2 separate regions of the Homo sapiens genome follow, and region 1 is linked to region 2. Evidence: fine-mapped QTL for protein levels in blood plasma. A gene starts in region 2. The other region holds a variant in brackets. All regions are shown on one strand. Distances are between the middles of the regions. Region 1 overlaps LOC105369632 (a long non-coding RNA gene). Region 2 holds the start of ENO2 (enolase 2).

Region 1 (8,196 bases), 40 kb after region 2:
CAAGCAGTCCTCCGACCTCAGCCCACCAGAGTAACTGGGACTAGAGGCGTGCACCACCACACCCAGCTAACTTTTTTGAATTTTTAGTAGAGACGAGGTCTCCCTATGTTGCCCAGGCTCATCTCAGAACTCTTGAGCTCAAGTGATCCCCTGCCTTAGCCTCCCAAAGTACTGGGATTATAGGTGTGAGCCACCGTGCCCAGCCAGCTGGATTCTTTATCTTGATCTTTTTGGTGGTTGTCACCCAAGTGTATATGTATGTAAAAGTTCACTGGGCAATTTAAGATTAGTGTGCTTTATATATGCTACATCTCAATCAAAAAGTAAAAACGGCAGTGGTGGGAGGGGACTTTTTTTTTAAAAGGACCGATCGCAGTGGCTCACCCCTGTAATCACAATATTTTGAGAGACCAAGATGGGTGGATTGCTTGAGCCCAGGAGTTCGAGACCAACCTGGGCAACATGGTGAAACCCTGTCTTTATAAAAGCATACAAAAAAATTATCCAGGCATGCTGGCGGGGCGCCTGTTGTCCCAGCTACTCCAGAGGCTGAGGCGGGAAAGTTGCTTGAACCCAGAAGGCAGAGGTTGCAGTGAGCCGAGATCGTGCACTGCACTCCAGCCTGGGCAACAGAGCCAGACCTTGTCTCAAAATATATATATATAAAAATTTAAAAACAGCCAGGCATGGTGGCTCATGCCTGTAATCCCAGCACTTTGGGAGGACGAGGCAGGAGAATTGCTTGAGTACAGGAGTTTGAGATCAACCTGGGCAACATAGAGAGAGTCCCTGTCTCTACGAAAAGTTAAATATTAGCCAGGCCTGGTGGCATGTGCCTGTAGTCCTAGCTACTCAGGAGGCTGGGGTGAGGCTGCAGTGAGTCATGGTCGTGCCACTGCACTCCAGCCTGGAGTACACTGAGACCCTGTCTCAACAAAATAATAAAATAAGTAAAAAGGCATTGTGGCACATGCCTGTAGTCTCAGCTACTTGGGAGGCTGAGGTTGGGGGGATTACTTGAACCCAGGAATTTGAGTCCAGCCTGGGCAAAATAGCAAGACCTCATCTATAATTTTTTTTTTTTTTTTGAGATGGAATGTCGCTCTGTCACCCAGGCTGGAGTGCAGTGGCGTGATCTTGGCTCACTGCAAGCTCTGCCTCCAGGGTTCACGCCATTCTCTTGCCTCAGCCTCCCGAGTAGCTGGGACTACAGGCGCCCACCACCACGCCTGGCTAATTTTTTTTGTATTTTTAGTAGAGACGGGGTTTCACTGTCTCTACTAAAGCCAGGATGGTCTCGATCTCTTGACCTTGTGATCCACCCGCCTCGGCCTCCCAAAGTGCTGGGATTACAGGTGTGAGCCACCATGCCCGGCCAATTTTTTTTTTTTTTTAATTTTTAAGTAAAAAATTTAAATTACTTGTAGCATTACGAAATTTTTTACCTTTTAGCAACAAATGTTTGACCAGCTCCAGATTCAGTGGCATCAACTGATGAATTGTTTAAAACAACCTTTTTTTTTTTTTTTTGAGACAAAGTCTCCCTCTGTCGCCCAGACTGGAGTGCAGTGGCGCAATCTCGGCTCACTGCAACCTCCGCCTCCTGGGTTCAAGTGGTTCTTCTGCCTCGGCTTCCTGAGTAGCTGGGACTACAGGCACGTGCCAGTAGGCCTGGCTAATTTTTATGTATTTTTTAGTAGAGACGGGGTTTCACCATGTAGGCCAGGCTGGTCTCGAACTCCTTATCTCAGATGATCTGCCTGCCTCAGCCTCCCAAAGTGGTGGGATTACAGGCGTGAGCCACTGTGCCCGGCCAACAACCATGTTTTAAACAACCAGTAGCAGCAGCAGCAGCAGCATCAGCAGCACAGGCGTGATTAAATTCTCAAGCTGAGCTAGAGCTAGCCATGGGGCAGGCACTGTTCTCTGTCCCCAGGCCTTGGTTATCACATGGGTCCTTCACTACTATTCATCATAGGCTGCCACCCACAGTCATGATGTTATTTATTTTTTGAGACGGGGTCTCGCTCTGTCACCCAGGCTGGAGTGCAGTGGCCTGATCTTGGCTCACCGCAACCTCCAATTCTAGACTCAAGGGATTCTCTTGCCTCAGCCTCTTGAGTAGCTGGGATGGCAGGCGCAAGCCACCAAAGCCTGGCTAATTTTTTGTATTTTTTGTAGAGGCGGGGTTTCATCATGCTGCCCAGGCTGGTCTTCAACTTCTGATCTCAAATCGGCCCACCTTGGCCTCCCAAAGTGCTGGGATTACAGGTGTGAGCCACTGTGCCTGGTCTTACAGTCATGATGTTATTATTGATGTCACATACTGGCAAGCATATCCAGGTTGGGTGGATGACAAGTTTCAGGTTCATATCTTTATTTTAGTATGCTTTCTTCTTCTTTTTATTATTATTTTATTTTCATAGGTTATTGGGGAACAGGTGGTGTTTGGTTATATGAGTAAGTTCTTTCGTGGTGATTTGTGAGATTTTGGTGCACCCATCACCCAAGCAGTATACACTGAACGCTATTTATAGTCTTTTATCCCTCCACCTCTTCCCACCCTTTCCCCCTGAGTACCCAAGGTCCATTGTGTCATTCTTATGCCTCTGCATTCTCATGGCTTAGCTCCCACTTATGAGAACATATGATGTTTGGTTTTCCATTCCTGAGTTACTTCTTAGTGTGCTGCTTTCTTCTTCCTCTTTAAAACATTATAAAATATTTTGTACATCATTTTATATATATATATATATATATATATATATATATATATATATATATATATATATATACAGCCACATAGTGATTTTTACACAAACGAATATATGCTCACCTAACAGATGCAGTAACTGAGGGATTTTCTTTTTCTTTTTTTTTTTTTTTTTGAGATGGAGTTTCGCTCTTGTTGTCCAGGCTGGAGTGCAATGGCTCAATCTCAGCTCACCACAACCTCTGCCTCCCAGGTTCAAGCGATTCTCCTGCCTCAGCCTCCCGAGTAGCTGGGATTACAGGCATGTGCCACCATGCCTAGCTGATTTTTGTATTTTTAGTAGAGACGAGGTTTCTCCATGTTGGTCAGGCTGGCCTCAAACTCCCGACCTCAGGTGATCTGCCTGCCTCGGCCTTTCTTTTTTCTTTTTTCTTTTTTTCCTAGTTCTTGTGGTCCTCAATTATTTTTATTTTATTTTACTTTATTTTTTGAGACGGAGTCTTGCTCTGTCGCCAGGCTGGAGTGCAGTGGCAGGATCTTGGCTCACTGCAACCTCTGCCTTGCGGGTTCTTCTGCCTCAGCCTCCTGAGTAGCTGGGATTACAGGCACGATTCTCCTTCCTCAGCCTCCTGCGTAGCTGGGATTATAGGCACATGCCACCACGCCCAGCTAATTTTTGTATTTTTAGTAGAGACGGGGTTTCACCATGTTGGCCAGGCTGGTCTCGAACTCCTGACCTCAAGTGATCCACCTGCCTCGGCCTCCCAAAGTGCTGAGATTACAGGCATGAGCCACCATGCCCAGCCTATTTTATTTTTTTGTTTTGTTTTCTGAGATGGAGTATCACTCTGTCGCCCATGTTGGAGTGCAGTGGCGCCATCCTGACTCACTGCAACCTCCGCCTCCTGGGTTCAAACAATTCTCCTGCTGAGGGATTACAGGTGCACACCACCACGCCTGGCTAATTTTTTTTTTTTTGTATATTTAGTAGAGACGGGATTTCACCATGTTGGCCAGGCTGGTCTTGAACTCCTGACCTCAGGTGATCCACACGCCTCGGCCTCCCAAAGTGCTGGGATTACAGGCGTCAGCCACCGCGTCCGGCCTATTTTATTATTATTATTTGGTAGAGATGGGGTCTCACTAGTCTTCCAGGCTGGTCTCAAACTCCTGGGCTCAAGCTCCTGCTTCAGCCTCTCAAAGTGGTGGGATTACAGGAATGAGCCACTGCACCCAGCCTACTAAGGGATTTCCAAGGGTAACTTTAACTATGTGACATAATTGTAATTTACTTCTCCTCATTTTCTATTCCTTCAAAATGTAAAGCTTGTGACAGTCCAGCCCCTTCAGCCTGGAGTTCCACCTACCAGTCCCCACATGTGCTGTCTCTCACCAAGGTTGCCAGTGACCTCTGACCAAAACAATCTTGTAAGTAATCAAAACTGAATTTTCTACCTTGTTCTATTCTCCTTGACCCTTCTGTTGCTCCACACTCTCTTTGTCCCCATCGCCCATATTTCACTCACTCATTCTCATAGTTCAACTCCTGACTAAAGACTGACACACCTCCCAAATCCCTGTCTCCAGCCCAGGCCTCTCATTCTGCCTCCAGACCTGCCATTTTCTTGTGTGTTCTGGATGGTTCCATTTGCTTGTGGCTCAGACACCTCAAAAACATATCCTAAACTGAACTCACCATCTCCCTCTCCCACCCTCCTGCCCCTGCCCTCAATTACTCCTCTTTCTGTCATCTCCATCTTGATTGGTGGCACCACCTTCCAATCAATTTTTCCAGGCTAGAAACTTCCCTTTCTCTTTTTTTTTTTTTTTTTTTTTTGAGATGGAGTCTTGCTCTGTCGCCCAGGCTGGAGTGCGGTAGCGCCATCTCGGCTCACTGCAGCCTCCACCTCCCTGGTTCAAGCAATTCTCCTGCTTCACCCTCCGAAGTAGCTGGGATTACAGGTGCCCACCACCACACACAGCTAATTTTTGTATTTTTAGTAGAGACAGGGTTTCACCATGTTGGCCAGGCTGGTCTCAAACTCCCAACCTCAGGTGATCCGCCTGCCTCGGCCTCCCAAAGTGCTGGGATTACAGGCGTGAGCCACTGTGCCCAGCCTCAACTCCATATCTAATCAGTCACCAAATCTTGCCGTTTCATCAGTGTTTCTTGAATTATTTTCATCCTTATTTCTACTGTCCTATTTCAGGCTGTTGACACTTGTCACCTGGGCTGCTGGAAATGGTGTCTTTGCTTCCAGTCCTTTTTTTTTTTTTTTTTTGAGACAGAGTTTCACTCTTGTTGCCCAGGCTGGAGTGCAATGGCGTGATCTCGGCTCACCGCAACCTCCACCTCCCAGGTTCAAGCAATTCTCCTGCCTCAACCTCCTGAGTAGCTGGGATTACAGGCATGCTCCACCATGCCCGGCTAATTTTGTATTTTTAGTAGAGACAGGGTTTCTCCATGTTGGCCAGGCTGGTCTCGAACTCCAAACCTCAGGTGATTCGCCCATCTCAGCCTTCCAAAGTGCTGGGATTACAGGTGTGAGCCATCGCGCCCAGCCAACTTCCAGTTCTATTTCCCTTGAAGCTCCTCTATGTTGCTGCCAGGGTGGTTTTTCTAAAATGCAGATCTGGCCAGGCACAGTGGCTCACGCCTGTAATCCCAGTACTTTGGGATGCTGAGGCAGGAGGATCGCTTGACTCAGGAGTTCGAGACCAGCCTGGGCAACAGACTGAGACTCTGTCTCTATTTTAAAAATTAAGAAATAATAATTTGTAAATTAAAAAAATAAAAATAAATTAGCTCGGCATGGCGGTATGCACCTGTAGTCCCAGCTACTCAGGAGGCTGAGGTAGGAGGATCAGCGGAGCTCAGGAGGTTGTGGCTGCCATGAGTCGTGATCACGCTACTCCACTCCAGCCTGGGTGACAAAGTGAGACCCTGGCTCAAAATATATAAATAAATCAAATGCCTATCTGACCATGTTCCTCTCTTCTTCTATCCTACAGTGGCTCCCCATCACTGGCCTGTCCTATGGGAAAACATTTGCATTCCTTAACTCAGCCTAGAAGGCCTCTGTGACTTGCTGTCTACTTATCTGGCCCTTCTCATGCTTCCTTTCTGGCTGTAGCAACCTTGAAGATATCGTACTTCCCCAAACCCACCTGCTGCTTCTTGCTTTT[T/A]TTCATGCGGACTCTTCTGTCTGGAATATCTTCTACATGCAGCAACCGTAACCCAACCTCCATACTGCAGAGAAGTGGCTCGTCTCAGGCCAATTCCTGGTCATCCTTTTAGATTCAGCCCAGGCTGGGCGCGGTGGCTCATGCCGGTAACCCCAGCACTTTGGGAGGCCGAGGCGGGCAGATCACGAGGTCAGGAGTTCGAGGCCAGCCTGGGCAACATAGTGAAACCCTGTCTCTACTAAAAATACAAAAATTAGCCAGGCATGGTGGTGCACGCTTGTAGTCCCAGCTACTTGGGAGGCTGAGGCAGGAGAATCACTTGACCCCAGGAGGCAGAGGTGAGCTGAGATCACGCCACTGCACTCCAGCCTAGGCATCAGAGCTTAGACTCCGTCTCAAAAAAAAAAAGAGAAAGATTCAGCCCAGTGTGAAGGTGTGAACCTCTTCTAGGACATGAAAAGATTCAGCCCAGGTGTGAACCTCTTTTGGAGATGCTCCTTTCCTAACTGCTTGAACCCCGGATAGGAGTCCTATTCTTTTTACTCCTATAGTACTTTCTTTATATCTCCATAATTTTATTTACTATTACTACATGATACATTATTTTATAAAAGTCTTTGTAACCTCCTTAAGGATTCACTGCTTAATCTCCAGTGCTTAGCACAAATCATTAAATGCGAACCAGAAACTCTTCCAAATGTGTTACATCTATAACCTCATTGGATTCTCACTACCAACCCCATGCAATAGATACTAATGTGATCTCTGTCTTACAGAGGAAGAAACAGGCACAGGGAGGTTCAGTAATTTGCCCAAGGTCATACACACACTGGCCTTCAGGTATTCATGCCCGGGGAGTCTGGTCCCACAGCTGGCATGTTTGCCATTATATTATATTGCCTCCTTATAGTGTCGGCACTCATTAAGCACATTGACAGCTATGCTTGGTGAGTGACTACTATGTACCCAGCTCTGTGCTACATGCTTTACCTGGATTATTTCAACTGCACAACAACCCTGTGAGGTAACTACCATCATTGCTCCTATTTTACATAACAGAAAACTACAGAAATCTGGGGCTGGGCGTAGTGGCTCATGCCTGAAATCCCAGCACTTTGGGAGACCCTGTCTCTAAAAAAAATTTTTTTTTGGCCGGACGTGGTGGCTCACACCTGTAATCTCAGCACTTTGGGAGGCTAAGGCAGGCAGATCACAAGGTCAGGAGTTCTAGACCAGCCTGGCCAACATGGCAAAACCCTGTGTCTACTAAAAATACAAAAAATAGCTAGGCGTGGTGGCAGGTGCCTGTAATCCCAGCTACTCAGGAGGCTGAGGCAGGAGAATCCCCTGAACCTGGGAGATGGAGGTTACAGAGAGCCGAGATCGTGCCGCTGCACTCCAGCCTGGGCAACAAGAGCAAGACTCTGTCTCGAAAAAAATAAAAATAAAAATAAAAATATTTTTTTAAAAATTAGCTGGGTGTGGTAGCACATGCCTGTAGTCCCAGCTACTTGGGAGGCTGAGGTAGGAGGATCACTTGAGCCCAGGAGGTCAAGGCTGCAGTGGGCTGTGATGGCGCCACTGCACTCTAGCCTTGGTGACAGCAAGACCCTGTCTCAAAAAAAAAAAAAAGAGAAATCGGGCAACTTCCCCAAGATCGCGCAGTTAACTAGTGGCATAGCTTCACTCAAACTCGAAGTCTTAATCAGGACACTCTACCAAATGAGATCAACGGCTCAGTAATGGATTGGCATCCAGTATGAAGACTGGACCAGCAGGGAGAACTATGATGCGTACAGCCTAGAGCCTGAAGCAGATTTCACAGCCTCAGAGGTGGCACAGGCTGACTCACAACCCGGGGCAGAAAGGGACCAGCCCAGAAACAGTGACCCAGAATCACAGGGAAGTAGAAATGGGATTCGGCACAATGAAGCCCCTCCTTGACCCCATGCTCCTTACCCTCAGGGGCGCAGGAGTTAGTCGCTCAGGCGGCTCAAAGGTCTTGACGGTGGAGAACACCATCCCCAGGGATTCCCGACGCGGTGATGCCATCAAAGCGTTAATTCTGAGATGGGCCTGCCCGGGTGCGGACTCTGCCGCAGCAAGAGAAGGGTTAACTGCCCCGGGCCTTCGCCGTGGGGGCGGGGCCTCGGGGAGGGTCACAGCCCGGGACTGAGACCCGAGGTTAACCGCCCGGGGTGGGCTCCACGGGGGCGGGGCATGCTCTCCGCGGCTGCTGCCGGTATAGAGCGGTAACTGCCCAGGAGGGGGCGGGGCCCCACAGGGGCGTGGCCTCG
Region 2 (9,693 bases):
TCTCTTCACTCACCAGGCTGCCTCACTCACCTGGCCTGTGCACAGCCCCACCACCAGGTCAGCAATGAATGTGTCCTCAGTCTCTCCTGAGCGATGACTCACCATGACCCCCCAGCCATTCTCCTGGGCCAGCTTGCACCTGTATCCACACACAGCACTGATTCTCCAGCTCTCACACTGGGCACTCTCTTCCCAGCCCCAACCTTGGTCTATGTCAGGAAACATCTAGGGGAAAGCTATCTGGGAGGGGAGCAGAGAATCAGGGGTGGAGGGGCAGAGGTGAGAGAACTGTGAGGATGATTCCAGGTTCCCCGCTCTCTTTGGCACCCCTGGGTAGAATTAGGCTGGAGCACTTGCAAAAGGAGTCTTATAGAAACGAGGACCACACAGGAGAGGGCCAGAAGTCACTCACGCTTGGATGGCTTCAGTGACCGAGCCGATCTGGTTGACCTTGAGCAGCAGACAGTTGCAGGCCTTTTCTTCCACTGCCCGCTCAATACGTTTTGGGTTGGTCACTGTCAGGTCATCACCCACAATCTGGATCCCTACATTGGCTGTGAACTTGGACCAGGCAGCCCAATCATCCTGGTCAAATGGGTCCTCAATGGAGACCACTGCAGAGAGAGCATGGTGGGGAGGGGGGAGGTGTTCATCTTCCCTGGGTCTCTACATCAGGCAGGAACATGCCCCTTTATTCCCTGAAATGGACAGGCCCTTGGTTAACTACACCTGCTCATCCTTGCTAAGACAAATCCCCCCAGTGTAAGCCTGCCCTAACTGATTCTTAACTTTTTTTTTTTTTTTGACAGAGCCTCATTCTGTCATCCAGGCTGGAGTGCAGTGGCACAATCTCAGCTCACTGCAACCTCCACCTCCCCAATCAAGTGATCCTGCCACCTCAGCCTCCTGAGTAGCAGGGACTTTAGGTGTGTGGCACCACACTCAGCTAATTTTTAAAATTTTTGTAGAGATGAGGTCTCACTGTATTGCCAGGCCAGTCTCGAACTCCTGGATTCAAGCAGTCCTCCTGCCTCGGCTTCCCAAAGTAATGGGATTACAGGCATGAGCCACCACGCCTGGCTCCTGATTCTTATTTCATAAAACCTTACATGGAGAGGCCAGGCACAGTGGCTCATGCCTGTAATCCCAGCACTTTGGGATACTGAGGTGAACGGATCACTTGAGGATAGGAGTTCCCTGGCTAACATAGTAAAACCCCATCTCTACTAAAAATACAAAAATTAGCCAGGCATGGTGGTGCACGCCTGTAATCCCAGCTACTTGGGAGGCTAAGAGAATCGTGCAGTGAGCAGAGATCTCACGCCACTTCCATAGGCTGGGCACAGTGGCTCATGCCTGTAATCCCAGCACTTTGGGAGGCCGAGGCATGCAGATCACTTGAGCCCAGTAGTTTGAGACCAGCCATGAGCAACATGGCTAAACCCTGTCTCTACAAAAAAAAAAAAAAAAAAAAAAAGTTAATTAAAAGCAAACCAGCCAGGCGTGGTGGCTCACGCCTGTAATCCCAGCACTTTGGGAGACCAAGGTGGATAGATTACCTGAGGTCAGGAGTTGGAGACCAGCCTGACCAACATGGAGAAACCCCTGTCTCTACTAAAAATACAAAATTAGCCAGGCATGGTGGCACATGCCTGTAATCCCAGCTATTCGGGAGGCTGAGGCAGAAGAATCGCTTGAATCCGGGAGGTGGAGGTTGTGGTGAGCCGAGATGGCGCCATTGCACTCCAGCCTGGGCAAGAAGAGTCAAACTCTGTCTCAAAAAAAAAAAACAAAACAAAAAAAACAACCCCACCCCCCCCCCAAAAAAAATCTTCCAGTAACAAGGGTTCACAACCTAGCTTTGCATTTTCCTGTTCTCACTGCCAGCAAGCCCTTCCTCATTGCTAATCCAAATCCTTAATTCTGCAATTATGTTGATTTTCTTTCGCTCTGTGTCAGGAAGATGGCGACCAACTGCCTCCATCCTGAGATAAAGGCCCTGGGCAGACTTGCAGAAGCTAATTCAGTCCCCCTCAGCCTTCTTTCTACTCACACATCAGTCCCAGCTCCATTCAGCATCCACAATTTCATCAATCAAAGATACTGAAATGTTCTAGTTCTCTGCTAGATCCAGTCACACTCATATCATCCCTGGTTCCTTCCAGAGCCTTCCCCATGACCCCAGTAGTTTTCAGAACCCATGACTTTAATCAGGATCTGAGACAGAACAGATTGGTCACGGGTACCTGCATTTTTACACTACATACAAAGCCCAGTCTTTGCAGGTGGCTCCTGCACCCTCTCCCTGGTTCTCAGGTTCTTCTTAGGACACCCCCACCTGGTGCCTGAGTCAGCACCCCATAAGGTCCAGAGTTGCTGGGACACGTCCCTGCCTGCCCCCAGACCTCCCCCTCACACCACTTCCTCTCACCAGGATAGTCCCTGACAAAGTCCTGGTAGAGTGCCCCCAGCTGGTCCCCAGTGATGTATCGGGAAGGATCAGTGGGAGACTTGAAGTCCAAGTCATATTTGCCATCACGATAAAACTCTGAGGCAGCAACATCCATGCCAATAACGATCTTTTCCGTGTAGCCAGCCTTGTCGATGGCTTCCTTCACCAGCTCCAAGGCTGGGGACAGAATACAGTGAGATTATAGTACAAGCAGGAGGGATGGGCAAGGAGGAGGAGGGAAAGAAAAGACATTCAGGGCAGAGGTGGAGGGCTGTTCCTGAGGGAAGTGTGGCGGGGATGCTGTTGGGGTTATCCCCAGGTCTGGGAGGAGAGGCCATCTTCTAGGAACACAGAGGAATGGAATTCTCTTAATAATACTTACTATACTTTCATTGGTATCATGTCATCTAAGCATTTTATATATATTTCATTTAAGCCTCACACTACCATGAGCTAGATTCTGTTATTATTTCCAGAGAGAAGTAAGAAAGTTCACCAGCAGTAACTCCACAAGTCAAGGTTCAAATAAATCCAGGTTATTTGGCCCCAGAACCTTAACTCTTAACCACTACCTATATTCTTTCCATTCCCTATACAGTTTCCCCCAAGGCACAGAAAAATTAGGGATTCTAGAGGCCTAGGAGGTTGGGACGGGGACAGGACAGATTTCGAATGGATGGGATGAATCCAACAGTCATCCAGACCATCTCCCAGTATTCCCAAGGGCTCCAGTGACAACTTTTTTTTTTTTTTTTTTTTTTGAGACGGAGTCTCGCTCTGTTGCCCAGGCTGGAGTGCAGTGGCATGATCTCGGCTCACCACAACCTCCGCCTCCCGGGTACAAGCGATCCTCCTGCCTCAGCCCCGCTAGTATCTGTGATTACAGGCACACGCCACCATGCCCGGCTAATTTTTGTATTTTTAGTAGAGACGGGGTTTCACCTTGTTGGCCAGGCTGGTCTCAAACTCCTGACCTCAGGTGATCCACCCGCCTCAGCCTCCCAAAGTGCTGGGATTACAGGTGTGAGCCACCGCGCCCGGCCTTCCAGTGGCAACTTAACAGATGCTAACACATCTGGCTAGGCAGGTAAAAGACTGTCCCCTGGCCAGGCGTGGTGGCTCACGCTTGTAATCCCAGCACTTTGGGAGGCCGAGGCGGGCCGATCACAAGGTCAGGAGTTCGAGACCACAGTGAAACCCTGTCTCTACTAAAAAATACAAAAAATTAGCCGGGCGTGGTGGCGGGCGCCTGTAGTCCCAGCTACTCGGGAGGCTGAGGCAGGAGAATGGCGTGAACCCGGGAGGCGGAGCTTGCAGTGAGCTGAGATCGAGCCACTGCACTCCAGCCTGGGTGACAGAGCAAGACTCCGTCTCAAAAAAAAAAAAAAATACTGTCCCCCTAGGTCTGCATGTGAATTTGGCAGGCTCTCTGCAATCCACTCTAAGAACTGGTACCTTTTGGAGTTTGCAGAGTCCTAGGACCCTCCACGCCTACTCAGGACTTGGTGAACTGTGTCACCCTTTCTGATGTCCCACAATAGGGTAAGACTTAGAGCTGGGAGTGGGGCTCCTGGCCTCACCTTCACTGTTCTCCAGGATATTGGGGGCAAAGCCACCTTCATCCCCCACATTGGTGGCATCCTTGCCGTATTTGTCCTTGATGACTCCCTTGAGTGTATGGTAGACCTCTGCACCTAGTCGCATGGCATCCCGAAAGCTCTCAGCTCCCACTGGGAGGATCATGAACTCCTGCATGGCCAGCTTGTTGCCAGCATGAGAGCCACCATTGATCACGTTGAAGGCCTGGGGAGCCACAGAAAGACAGAAGGGTCAAAGAGCCCCTCCCTGCCCGCCCCAGGAGTGTTAACCCAAGATCCCAAACTTCCCCCAGCTTTCCGGACTAAGTCTCACGTCCCCATCCTTCCTCTTTACCTCCCTCAATTCACTTTCCTCCCATCATTCCTCATGAGTTGCATGCTCCCTCCCCCACCCGCCCCTGGGAGAGCCGCAGGCTGGCTTATTGCTCACCGGCACAGGCAGGATGAGGTCTGAGTTCCCGGCCAGCTGAGCAATGTGGCGATACAGGGGCAGTTCCCGCTCAGCTGCCCCTGCCTTACACACGGCCAGAGACACACCCAGGATGGCATTGGCCCCAAACTTGGCTAGGAGATTATAGAGGAAGGTGCTGAGCACAATGTCCCCTTCTCCTTTCTAGCTCCTGCCTCCATCTGTAGTCTCCAAAAGGAGCCAGTAAAGGAGACCCCCTCCTCCCTCCCCACCCCTGCCCCAGCAACACCTCATCCATGCTCTCTTGAAAACAGCAGGGAGAGGAATGGGTGGGGAGGAGGAGATTGGAAACGGCAGAGAGCCACACCTCTTTCTAAATATCCCTGAGACCACAGACTCTCTCAGGCCATCCCCCTCCTCTGTATGCTGCAAAGAAGGTCTTCCTTCTGCCTACTGTCGGTCCTTCCCTCTGCAGCTAAACTCATCTCCCCTTGCTCTGGCTTTGAGAGGAGAATGCCCCTGACAGTCATTCCTGAGGAAGCCACTACAGCACTGGCCCTTCAGCTCTCTATCTGCTCCACGCCTCCCCACCCTGACGCTTCCCCACTTTCTCCCGGCCCCGGCTCACATTTGTTCTCAGTCCCATCCAACTCCAGCATCAGGTTGTCCAGTTTCTCTTGCTCCACCACAGAGAGACCCTGAGGGCAGAGCCTCCATCACCCAGGGCCAGGCTGGAGGCTGAGCCCTAAGGCAGAGGGTCCCCTCATTCACACCCAAGCTCACATTTGGCCAGGGTCCAACCAGGTCCCTGTGACAGGGGCCTACCTGGATTAGGGGACCTGAACTCCCATGGGAGCAGGGTGCATTAAGGAAGCTGTTCCCCACCCTTCCCCCTTGTAACCATGATTCCTAAGAGTGGGCCTTCTTTCTTCCCTTCCTCCTGCCCTGCTCCGGGATTCCTTCCAGAACTCTGGCCCTGCTATCCCCAGCAAAGAGCAGGCCTCACTGAGCTGATGAGGGCTGGCGCGATGGTGGAGTTGATGTGGTCCACTGCCTTCAGGACACCTGGGGAAAGGAAGAGGCTGGACTGGGTCGGGCCAGGAGGGGCCGGAAGGGATCAATGGGAGGAGGGGAAGCCATGCTAGAGGAGGACTGGGGACTGGTGTGAGGTAGGGGCATAAGGCTGAGGTGGGGGAGAGTCTGGAAAAGAGAAGGGACCTCACCTTTGCCTAAGTAACGCTGTTTGTCTCCATCCCTCAGCTCCAGGGCCTCATAGATGCCCGTAGAGGCTCCACTGGGCACTGCAGCCCGGAAAAGACCTAAAGGAGGAACATGGAATGAGAGGGAGTGAAGAGGACACAGGGGCCAGGGAGTCCTTCAGCCTTCTGGCTCTAAACTGCCTGCCTACCACATCTAGCTCTCTCCCCACACTGCTCCCTAACATCCCCCCACCCCCACCCCACACACACACTGAGGCAGATGCACAAGAAGTGGCCTCCTCATCCACCCATCTGAGGCCCCACATGCACAAGTGGGAGCCCGCAGAAAGAAAATTGCTTGCAGCACACGTCTGCACACATGCAAGTGCACAGGCAGACACACGGAGGCAGGACATGCCTCACACGCTAAACTCGAACACAGACCCACCTACCCTGGCTCCCCGGACAAGGAGGATCCAACCGCCACAACCCAGGCTTGTGAGCCTGGCCCAGCACCCCATACCCCTGGGTATCAAAAAAGGCCTCCGAACCCCTGGCCGAACCCAGCCTGGCCGTGGAAAAGCTAGGGCTGTAGGAAGGCCCATGCCACACCCATTACCTTTGGCAGTATAGAGATCCACCTCCACTGTGGGGTTCCCGCGGGAGTCCAGGATCTCCCGGGCCCAGATCTTCTCTATGGACATGATGGCTGGGATCTCCTCGGGTGGAAGGGAAGGAAGGAGAAAGATAAGAGGCTTAGAGGGGTGGAGCCTGAGATCAATGGGCGGGGCGGGAGGCTGGGAGGGATGGGAAAGAGGTTACTGCAGTGGGTGGGGGGTGGGTAGGGAGGCGCTGGCTGCAGTCTAGGGCTGTAGAAGGGATTCCCCCTCCCCCCTGGGAAGAGGAGAAGGTCAATGCAGTGAGGAAGGGGAGGTCACTGCAGTGGGGGGCGGGGTAAGATCAAATGATGAGATGGGAGAACACTGCAGTGAGGAGGGGAGGGGCACGACAGTGGTTCCCGCGCCTCTTTGCAGCTTGGCCAGCCGGTGGGGTTCCCCCAGATCTCCTCAGAGCGGAATGGCTGCCAGGCTTGCATTTCTCCTGGGAGCCAAGAAGAGGATGGGCTGCCTGGGCCTCTCTTCCAGAGCCCCCATACCTCCCCAACTTAACACCCCAGCTGCCTGAACACTGCCCCTTCCCCAAGGTCCCACTCTCTCCCAAACGTGTATCCCTCCTCTTCCCGCGAAAGGCGCATGCAATACAGGTGTCGGGGAAGAGGGTCCTGAGAAAGGCCCTGCAGTCCCTGGGGGTTGCAGCGGGAAGTGAAGAGGATAAGAGCCGGTGGGGAGTGGAGGCGAGCTGGGCCTGTCCTCCCCTCTGCGCCTCGACAGATCCCCACTTCTTCCATCTCTCCCCCGTGCAGCAGAGGGGAGGAAGCGCGAACGGAGAGGGGCGCCGTGGGGAAGAGCAGGAGAGAGGGGAGTCCAAGGGAAGTCTGGGGGAGGTGAGGAACGGTGAGAGAAGACATTTCCCCAAATGCAAACCAAAAGGGACGCTCTAGGATAAAAATGCACCGCCCGGAGAGGCTCCCAACTTAGAAACAAATAGAACCGTAGATGAGGGCGAGCACCGGGAGAGAGGCAGGCAAGGGTGGAGAGGCGCAGTTAGAGATAGGCGCGCAGAGGGCCAGAAAGCGAAGGCAGCGGGCGGGGAAGGCCAGGGAGGGAAGGCGCCCTGGGCGCGGGCGGCGGAGCAGGTGCGCAGCTGCACCGGGCCAGAGATGCGGAGAGGTGCGCAGCGGCACCGGGTAAAGGAGGCAGGGGCGCCGCGGCGAAGGGAGGGGGCCACAGGGGCTCTGGGCCTGGCGGGGGCTTCACCTCGGGACTGCAGACTCAGACGGTGGTAGTGGCGGTGGCGGTGGCGGTGGCGACGGCGGCGCTGAGAGAGCGGGAGTGGCAGTGGCGGCGGCGGCTGCGGCTCCCGGGCGGCGGGCGGAGGAGGCGCCTATAGGGCCGCGCGGGCGCATGTGACCCGGAGCCCCCGATGAGTCAGGAGCTGCCGGCGGAGGCGCACGTACGAGCGCGGGTGGGGGACCGACGAGGGTGGAGTGGGGAAGGGAGGAGGATGGGGGAAGGGTGGGGGCACCCACGACCTGGCCCCAGCGCACACAAGCGCTCATACCCACGGCCCGACCCACTCGACAGTAACAGGCAGAGCCGCACCCCTGTAGCCCGGGTACGAAGGCCCACACTGCCAGTGAAGCCCAAGACAGCCTCAATGTCTCACAAACCCGGTCAGACACAGGAGCATCACTCTGTTTCTTTATTGGAAATCCGAACACCCCAGCCGCCTTCGCAAGTCTCTCCAACCACTCCTACCAGCACCCCGCGGCCCACGCGGTCTTGGCTCTCACCCACGCCTGCCCGAGGGCGGCCCCCGGCCTAGGCTCCAGGCAACGCTCAGGCCTAGGCACCCCATTCTGCACCCCACACTGCCCAGAGGACCGGCACAGAGCAGATCCTGGGCCTCAGGTTGTGATGAATTTCCAGCTTTGGGGCAAAAACAGGCATCCTCTGTTCTCTGTCATACATGTGGTGGCTGCCCCTGGGAGTCTGATCAGGTCTGAAGGCCAGCGTCTTTGATCTCCTGGAGGTAGAAGACAGAAGTAAATAGGGACCAGGCGCTGTGGCTCACCCCTGTAATCCCAGCACTTTGGAAGGCGGAGGCGGGCAGATCACGAGGTCAGGAGATCCAGACCATCCTGGCTAACGTGGTGAAACCCCGTTTCTACTAAAAATACAAAAATTAGCCAGGCGCGGTTGCATGCGCCTGTAGTCCCAGCTACTCGGGAGGCTGAGGCAGGAGAATTGCTTGAACCCAGGAGGTGGAAGTTGCAGTGAGCTGAGATTGTGCCACTGCACTCCAGCCTGGAGACTAAGCAAGACTACCTCGCAAAAAAAAAAAAAAAAAAAAAAAAAAAACAAACAGAGGTAAATAAAGCCTCTCCCCTATCTAAAGTGCCTGGCGGCCACCCTCATCTCTTCAGTCTCTTTTTGCCTCACTCTGCCCTCTTTTCTTCCCCCATCTCTGTGTCCTGTTTTTAGCTTCAGATTTTTTGTGCTGGATCTTCCTCTCCTGCTTCTCTCCTAGGTCCAGCTGCATACACCACCAACTTTCCCCTGCAGCCCCTACCATGCACCCACACCTGTCCTTTCCTAGCCGACTTCACTCTGTGTCAGGTATGGCTGCCCCACCCCCCACCAACTCCTCTGCCTGCCACCCCAATTCTTTTCACTTACTCTTCTGGCCTCCTAAGTCTTTCTCAGCTGGTCCCAGGCCCCTTGGGTCCCTTTTCCTCTCCCTGACTCCTAACCCTCCTCTCTTTAAGGGTCCTGCTTGTCTGATGCTTTCCTCTCCCACCTCCTTCTGCAGCAGCTTCCCCTCTTGCCTCTTCCCCTACCTGCCCAGCCCTTGGCCTCCTCCCACTGCCTCCCTGCAGGCTTCCTTACTATCTTTAGAGGCTAGAACTGCTGCTAGATCAATGACTGTTCGGGTTCCAGGTCACGCTGGGGCTCAGGCTCCTGCTCCTTTTCTTCCTTCAGCCTCTGTCGAATCACATCAGCCTCAGCCCGTTCCTCCTCCTCATAGAATTCCTTGTCCAGGCGTTCAAGGTATGGCATCTGCACCAGGGCCTCCTGGCGGTAGCTGGTTTCGTCCGTGCATGGGTTATCAAGCAGCACCAACGCTCGCAGCTTGGGCAGGTCTCGAAGCTTGGCCAGCTCCCCCAGGTTGGCCACCATGTTGCCCCTGCCAGTGTGGTCAGGAGGGGTTCATGCAGGAATAATGGGCTTTGGTTGCCAGTTGCTAGGAATGGGGCCTCTGGGGGACTCTCGGGGTTCCAGTGTCCCTAGAAACACTGTGAGGACTGGCCTGCCAAGCCTTGCCAGATTTACTGCAGAGGTGCTGTGTGACCCCGCTCTGGTCCTGCTTCTGCCCTTCAAGGAATCCCTAAGTGCCATATTCTACTCTGTAATA

Evidence for each region. A credible set is the group of variants that fine-mapping cannot tell apart. PIP is the posterior inclusion probability: the model's chance that the variant is causal. The UK Biobank Pharma Proteomics Project read protein levels with antibody pairs (Olink). The fine-mapping took linkage between variants from a reference panel, not from the people measured, so its PIPs are less certain.
Region 1: its variant is the best candidate, but not a certain one, in a credible set for the plasma level of the ENO2 protein (UK Biobank, PIP 0.82).

What each region holds. Positions count from the first base shown.
Region 1 is chr12:6,873,444-6,881,639 of GRCh38, reverse strand. LOC105369632 (a long non-coding RNA gene) reads left to right here. Exons shown (of 4, transcript NR_135083.1): 3 at 4,040-4,141; 4 at 5,726-5,876. Among named protein-coding and RNA genes, the nearest start is that of SPSB2, 4.2 kb to the right of the region's middle. RefSeq lists a silencer at 7,928-8,196. The variant T/A (reference allele first, on the strand shown) is at 5,900.
Region 2 is chr12:6,912,502-6,922,194 of GRCh38, reverse strand. It overlaps ENO2 (enolase 2), which reads right to left and starts at 7,615. Exons shown (of 12, transcript NM_001975.3): 1 at 7,536-7,615; 2 at 6,278-6,374; 3 at 5,683-5,778; 4 at 5,466-5,524; 5 at 5,088-5,157; 6 at 4,481-4,614; 7 at 4,033-4,255; 8 at 2,432-2,629; 9 at 413-614; 10 at 31-139. The coding sequence starts at 6,362. It overlaps LRRC23 (leucine rich repeat containing 23), which reads right to left. Exons shown (of 8, transcript NM_001135217.2): 7 at 9,168-9,465; 8 at 7,966-8,304. The coding sequence ends at 9,192. RefSeq lists enhancers at 5,983-6,622, 6,623-7,264, 7,943-8,112, 8,143-8,212 and silencers at 7,621-7,811, 7,343-7,832.